Linked DNA regions of Homo sapiens. The protein of the gene in region 1 interacts with the protein of each later gene in a pairwise test. Each region holds a gene or a part of one and is shown in the gene's direction. Other genes may lie near its edges.

The links. The genes of interacting proteins can lie anywhere in the genome.
Region 2: the proteins of PPP2R3B (region 1) and NOD2 interact in binary tests that used the Homo sapiens proteins (3 or more experiments, as listed by UniProt).

Annotation. Positions count from the first base shown.
Region 1 is NC_000023.11:384,108-388,183, reverse strand, and holds the start of PPP2R3B (serine/threonine-protein phosphatase 2A regulatory subunit B'' subunit beta), read left to right. Parts: upstream 1-1,276; 5' UTR 1,277-1,492; coding exon 1,493-1,816; intron 1,817-3,078; exon of another isoform or gene 3,079-3,142; intron 3,143-4,076. UniProt on the Homo sapiens protein: The B regulatory subunit might modulate substrate selectivity and catalytic activity, and might also direct the localization of the catalytic enzyme to a particular subcellular compartment.
Region 2 is NC_000016.10:50,700,106-50,703,605, forward strand, and holds part of NOD2 (nucleotide-binding oligomerization domain-containing protein 2), read left to right. Parts: intron 1-3,500. UniProt on the Homo sapiens protein: Pattern recognition receptor (PRR) that detects bacterial peptidoglycan fragments and other danger signals and plays an important role in gastrointestinal immunity.

The DNA of each region.
Region 1 (4,076 bases):
CTGTCGCCCAGGCTGGAGTGCAATGGTGTGATCTCAGCTCACTGCAACCTCCACCTCCTGGGTTCAAGCAATTCTCCCGCCACAGCCTCCCGAGTAGCTGGGACTACAGGCACACGCTACTATGCCCGGCTAATTTTTCTATTTTTAGTAGAGATGGTGGGGGCGGTTTCACTATGCTGGCCAGGCTGGTCTCGAACTCCTGACTTCGTGATCTGCCCGCTTCAGCCTCCCAAAGTGCCGGGATTACAGACTTGAGCCACCGCGCCCGGCCAAGGGTTACTTATTGAGTCTGGCTCGATTTATGCAGCTCAGAAGTAGGAGAACCTGGCTCATAAAAGACCTTGAAATTACTCTCTAACAGGGTGCAACACCAGGTGAAACCCTATTTTGATAAAAAATGAATAAAAAGCGGGGCAAGATGTAAAGGAAACAGGTGCATGTGTGCCAGACAGATGATAATGCAGTGTTTTTATGGATACTGTTAAAAGCAGAAACAAAAACGACCATTGGGTAAAGTTATTTAACTAATGTCACCTCCCTGGACGTGGATGATTTTTGCAATTTTCAACGCACTTCACGCTCATCCCTGAACACCAACGTTTAAAGGGGTCCAACTCCTCCAACCTGTCTCTACTGTTTGATAAGCAAAGCTAAAGTAAACGGGGCCCTTTGGGTCCCAGGTAGCCCGCTGTTATTGAAAAGTTTGATCTTTTCCTCGCGCGCTCCCGTAGGACGCACGCTCGCTCCCGAGCTCGGCGGGCGCGCACCCCGCATGCTCGCTCGTTCCCGGTGCCTCCCACTGCGCAGGCGCACTCCCGTCCTCCAGCCCCACCCGCTCACACACCTCCCAGCCTCTGGCTTGCGCCCCGCGGGCAGCCATTGCGCACGCTCACCCGACCGGCCTCCCGAACTCCGCTCCTCCACCGCTATGCACGGCGCATGCTCCATGCGGAGGTTCCACCCTCTCCTCGCTCTGGCAGGCACGCATTGCGCATGCTCGCATTTCCGCAGCTCTAGGACTGCCACGCCGCCATGGGCCGCGCCTCTAAAAATCCTAAACGCAGAAAGAGCTCGGGCGGTACGGCCGCCACAGCCCCTCCCTCGTCCTCACCGCAGCCGCTCGGCCCCACCAAAGCCTCCTGCAAAAGCTCCGAGGGCCGCGGGGCGCGCGTGGCTAGCGGCGGCGTCGCCTCGTGATGACATCGTCGCGATGACGCGACGCAGTGACGTGAACGCGGGCGCCCTTGTTTGGGAGCGCGGCCGGCGCGCCCGTTTTGAAGCTGCCCTGAGCAGCGCGGGCCGGACCGCGCCCCCTCCTCGGTCCCCGCGCCCCGCGAGTCCGCGCAGTTCCCGAGGCGCGGGCCCTGTTCCCTGCGCCGCGCCCCCTCAGCGGGCCGTGCTCGCATCACCGAGGTCGGTCCGGGGCGGACCGAAGCCCCCGGGGCGGGGCGGGGCGCGGGCGTCCGGGGGCGCCGCGGGCCCAGCCCCCGCCATGCCGCCCGGCAAAGTGCTGCAGCCGGTCCTGAAGATGAAGGTGGACGAGCTGTTCCTGTACTGGCTCAGCGAGGCCAGCACGCAGCGGATGCTGCAGGACTGCCTGCGCCGGATCAAGGCGCCCGGGCGGGACCAGCCGACCCCGGGGGACGGGGAGCAGCCCGGGGCCTGGCCCACAGCCCCGCTCGCCGCCCCCCGGCCCAGCGGGCTCGAACCCCCGGGAACCCCCGGGCCGGGCCCTGCGCTGCCCCTGGGCGCCGCCTCCAGCCCCAGGAACGCGCCCCACGTTCGAGGCACCCGTAGATCCGCAGGGACGAGAGTAGTAAGTTACTCTTCCTTCTGCTAACAACTGCGCAGGTGGCTCTGGTCGCATAGTGGGCGTGTGGCTGCGCGATGGAGGCTGGTGGGCGAGCGTCAGACCCCAAAACGGTTTCATATTGAGTCTGTTCCCCGCCCCGACCCCCCCCACCACACACATACAGACAAGAAAGTCCCACGTACTGAACATTCCGTCATTGACAGTTGTTAACCTAAAAATCACACAATTTATAAAGGTAGAAAGGCTTCCTATTTTATTTTATTTTATTATTTTAATTTGTTTTAATTTTGAGACAGAGTTTTGCTCTGTTGCCCAGGCTGGAGTACGATGGCGCGATCTTGGCTCACTGCAACCTCTGCCTCCCAGGTTCAAGCGATTCTCCTGCCTCAGGCTCCCGAGGAGCTGGGACTTACAGGCACGTGCCACCACGCCTGGCTGATGTTGTATTTTTAGTAGAGACTGGGTTTCCCCCATGTGGGCCAGGCTGGTCTCGAACTCCTGACCTCAAGTGATCCTCCCGCCTTGGCCTCCCAAAGTGCTGGGATTTCAGACGTGAGTCACTGCGCCTGGTCCGTTTTTTATTTATTTTACAATTCTTTGGAGACAGGGTCTTGCTCTGTCTCCTAGGCTGGAGTGCAGTGGCGCAAACACAGTTGGACTTCCTGCCTCAGCCTCCCCAGTAGCTGGGATTACAGGCGTGCACCATCACGCCAGGCTAATTTTTGTTTATTTATTTATTTATTTATTTTTGCAGAGACGAGGTCTTGCTATGTTACCTAGAGTGCTCTGGAATTCCTGGGTCCAAGCAATCCTCCCGCTTCGGCCTCCCAAAATCCCACTGTATTTCTTAGAAGAAACGCCATTTATTTCATAGAAGGTGATTATACACCGCAGGTGAGAAGCGCAGCCTCTGGCTAATGTACCTGTAATCTCAGCTACCCGGGAGGCTGAGGCAGGAGAATCACTGGAACCCAGGAGGCAGAGGCTGCACTCCAGCCTGGGCACCAGAGCAAGACTCCATCTCAAAAAAAAAAAAAAAAAAAAAAAAAAGAAAACTAAAAACAAGCACTTGGAGGGAAGAAAAGATGAGACGGGAATTTATGCTGAGTGGGTTGGCCAAGTGTATATATTCAAGAAGTTATAGGAAGAGCTATGGATATTCACCAAGGGTGTCCTGACGCATGGGTATTGAACAAACATGCATGTTACCTACTCCCGAGTTCACCTTGGAGCGGAGACTTAACATTTAAATGCATTATGGTTAGGCCCCCTAGGTCAAAAGGTGAAGCAACTCTGCAGCCTCTGTCAACCGGCCAGAACCAGTCCGTGGTGAGTAGTTACCAGGATAAAGTGATTGCAATCAGTTTTTTTTTTTTTTTTTTTTTTTTGAGACAGATTCTCACTCTCACCCAGGCTGAGATGCAATGGTGCAATCTCAGCTCACTGCAACCTCCGCCTCCCGGGTTCAAGCGATTCTCCTCCCTCAGCCTCCCGAGTAGCTGTGATTACAGGCGCACACCACCACCCCCGGCTAATTTTTGTATTTTTAGTAGAGGCAGGCTTTCACCTTGTTGGCTAGACTGGTCTCAAACTCCTGACCTCAGGTGATCCACCCGCCTCAGCCTCTCAAAGTGCTGGGATGACAGGCGTGAGCCACCACACCTGGCCTGGAATCAGTCTTTTCCCAGTCAAAGCTGTAGTTACGGCTGGTGGAACAGAGGGGTCTGTTCATCAGGATCTGACAGGAAGCTGCAGGTGTTTTAATATTGTTTATATTGGTCAGGCATGGTGACTCACGCCTGTGATTCCAGCATTTGGGAGTTGGAGGCAGGCAGATCACTTGAGTTCAGGAGTTCGAGACCAGCCTGGGCAACATGGCGAAACCCCATCTCTGCTAAAAATACACAAATTAGCCAGGCGTGGTGGCGCACCTGAAGTCTCAGCTACTCAGGAGGCTGAGGCAGGAGAAATGCTTGAAGCTGGGAGTCGGAGATTACTGTGAGCTGAGATTGCACCACTGCTCACCAGCCTGAGCAACAGAGGAAGGCCCTGTCTCAAAAAAAAAAAAAAAGTATATATATATATATAGAGAGAGAGAGAGAGAGAGAGTCTTCTTGCGTGCGCGAGCTTGAGGCCAAGATAAGCAATAGAGAAAAAGAAAAACATCCTTTATTTACTTCTTGAATCTCAAAAACGAGTTTCTGCAGAGGTCTCTAGTGAATAACCTAAAAGGACATTTAGCTGCTGGAGAAAAAGAAATGCT
Region 2 (3,500 bases), on another chromosome or scaffold:
ACTCTTGGCAGGAAACGTACAACTCTTTCTTTCTTCTTTTCTTTTCTTTTTCTCACTCTGTTACCCTGGCTAGAATGCAGTGGCACAATCATAGCTCACTGTAGCCTTGAATTCCTGCGCTCAAGTGATCTTCTGGCCTTAGAGTAGCTGGGACTACGGCTGCTGTACCACCATGAACAGCTAATTTTTTTTTTTTCTTTTAGAGATGGGGTGTTGCTATGTTGCCCAGGCTGGTCTCCAGCTCCTGGCTTTAAGCAATCCTCCCGCCTTGGCCTCCCAAACTGTTGGGATTGCAGGCATGAGCCACTTTGCCTGGCCAACAGAACACTTCTGCCGAGAGGAAGTGTGTGGTGGCCAGGAACTCAGATTCTGGAGCCAGAATGGTGCAGGCTCAAGGTCAACCCTGTGTGATCTCAGGCTTCCCTATGGAGCCTCTCCAGCCTCAGTCTCCCTTGTTTCAGTTTCCTCATCTACAAAACAATGTTAATAGTCAAATGGTGCCTATCCTATAAGGCTCTTGGGAGGATTCAGTGAGTTAATTTGAGTAATGCTTAGGATAGTGTCTATTACCACTGGCTGCTATTTATTATTTCTGTTATGAGTGATACTCTGTACTTGTACACTTTTATTTCTGTCTGTTTTAAATTAACAGCACAACAGACCATAACACTGCAGTATATTGAATTTATTTTATAATTAACATAGCATATTATAAACTAATATAGCTTAAATGTTTATGTAGGATTTCTGACATGAAATTGCATTAGATCATAGATGTTCAGAGTTGGTATATAACAGCCCCTGAGAATGTAGTAACTCAGCAGAGACCAGAAGGTCAGAGAAATGACCACTGAGTATTTTTGAAACTCTTTTGTTTTCTTCCAAATAGTGATTCTTAGGGCTCCTGAGAGGCAGATGGAACAATCATTAACATTCCACTTTATAAATCGGGAAGTTGAGACCAAGGAAAGTAGTTTGAATAAGCTCACAGTAGTTAATGAGGGGGCCAGTGCTGGACCAATTGGCCAGCACTGGTCATTGACTTATTCATCCATCATTCATTTATTCAGCCAGAATCTATTAGGTGCTTCATACATATTTGCTTAAAGTTTGTTGTGTTCATAGAGCTTTGCACACGGTAGGTACTCCATAAACATTTGTTGATGAAATAAGTGAGTTACTGAATGAATGATTGAATTAGAATGACACTGCAGTGTTAAAATGGGCTGGGTTGGGGAACATTTTAGTTTTTGTTTTTGTCTGTTTTCCAAAAATGTATGTGTTGTTCACATGAGTCTGGATAACCCTAGATTGAGATTGATGACATAAATAAATTTGTCTTCAAGGCTGCACTAAAGCTGGCTCACATGGCTAGGTATTTACAGAGCAGAAGTGGTGCAGTCCTCTCTGATTAGTTGCACGTACAGAAGACATATTCGTTATTGGACTGACCTTAGTTTCTCTTATAATTTGTTAGGGGAATTGAATCAGCCCATCTGAGAAGTTACAAGATTGTGTCTTGTCATCTTTAAAAGTTCAGCAATGTGATGTGGTACAGATGGTCTGAGGGGTTTGGAGAAGGTAGCCTAGATCCCTAGGGCCCAGAGAAGACAGGATGTGAACAGAGGAAGTACATGGATTGGTGAAGAAAAGAAATGGGATAACTCATGGGTCAAAGAAGAAATCATGATGGAAATCAGAAAATATTCAGAACCATACAATAATGAGAATATTATTTATCAAAATCTATTGGATGCAGCTAAAGCAGGACATAGGGGGAAATTTACAACCTTAGGTGCCTAGATTAGGAAAGAAGGAAGGCATTTGTTTATTTATTTGTTTATTTATTTATTTGAGATGGGGGTCTCACTGTGTCACCCAGGCTGCTGGAGTGCAGTAGCACGATCATAAATCACTGAAGTCTCGAACTTCTGGGCTGAAGTGATCCTCCCGCCTCAGCCTTCCAAGTAGGTGGGACACAGGCTAGCACCACCATACCAGGCTAATTTTTTTTTTGTAGACACAGGGTCTTGCTATGTTGAGGTCTCAAACTCCTGGGCTCAAGTAATCCTCCTCCCTCGGCTTCCCAAAGTGCTGGGATTACAGGCATGAGCCACTGCGCCCATCTAAGGCTGAATTTTAATGAGCTAAGAATTCATCTTAAGAAAGGGCTAAATAGACAGCAAAAGCAAACATTGAAGGTTGGGACTGAGCTGAGTGGGTAGCAGGGATGGGAGACAACAGATCTGAGGAGAGCAGGAGATTTTGAAAGGATTGCACTGCCTGAGGTTTAAGCCTTTAGAATCCAGCTCTCTCTGAGCTCCCTTTGAGCTCTGACATTCTGTGACTCTGATTTGGTGGCCTTCCCTTAGTGGCCTTACTGATTTCATTTGGATGGTGCTTGTGGTATATCCAACCAACATGTCTTCCCAAATGGCCTTTTAATTTCCTATAAAGAAGTAGTTGTCATTGATTGCAGGTTAGGGACAGAAAATGCTGTGGAATGAAACAAAATGCAAGTTAAAGAACTAAATTCCAAAAATACCCATTGCTACTATTGACTGAGTGAATTCCTACTGTGTGCCAGACACTGTACCCAGTCCATTCCCTGTATTGTTTTATTTAAGCCTCACAAGGGTATAGTGTGACTACACTGTTTCTTAACAATGAAGAAACTGCCCAAATCGCCCATCTGGGAAGCGGCCCAGCTAGAATTTGAATCCAGGCCTGTTTTCCTCCAGAGCTTGTGCTATTCTCTGTCTGTCATAAAATGTGGGGGCTTTGTGTGGTAAACTTGCTCAGTTGGGCATAGCAGTTGTTAGGAAACCTGAGGCTGGTAACACCAGCTGTAATACCAGCTGTCCGTCTGACTCATGCAACTGTTAAAGTTGATAGGGCTGAGGTGTCAGACTGAGCTCTGAATTGCCTGATTCCTATAACAATATTAACTTAAACATTTTTTAAATTGGGAAATGCACCATGCATACAGAAGAGTGTGTATATTTCATATGTATAGTGTAAACTGTTCCCATCACCCAGGTTAAAAAACAGGATGTTGCCAGTACCTGGGGCCTTCTTTAACTGCAACTGCTAGAGGTAAACACTGGCTTGACTTTTGTGTAAATCATCTCTTTGCCTTTCTTTAATGTTTTAGCATCTTTTAAAATAAATCCCCAAATAATGTATTGTTCTATTTTGAAAAACTGAGTAGCAAGCCAAAAATAGCTGTGTAAAGAAAGGTCACTTAAATTAGGCTGGGTGCAGTGGCTCAAGCCTTTAATCCCAGTACTTTGGGAGGCTGAGGCAGGTGGATCACAAGGTCAGGAGATCGAGACCATCCTGGCCAACATGGAGAAACCCCGTCTCTACTAAAAATACAAAAAATTAGCCAAGAATAGTGGCATGTGCCTGTAGTCCCAGCTACTCGGGAGGCTGAGGCAGGAGAATCGCTTGAACCCGGGAGGCAGATGTTGCAGTGAGCCGAGATCGCACTGCTTGAA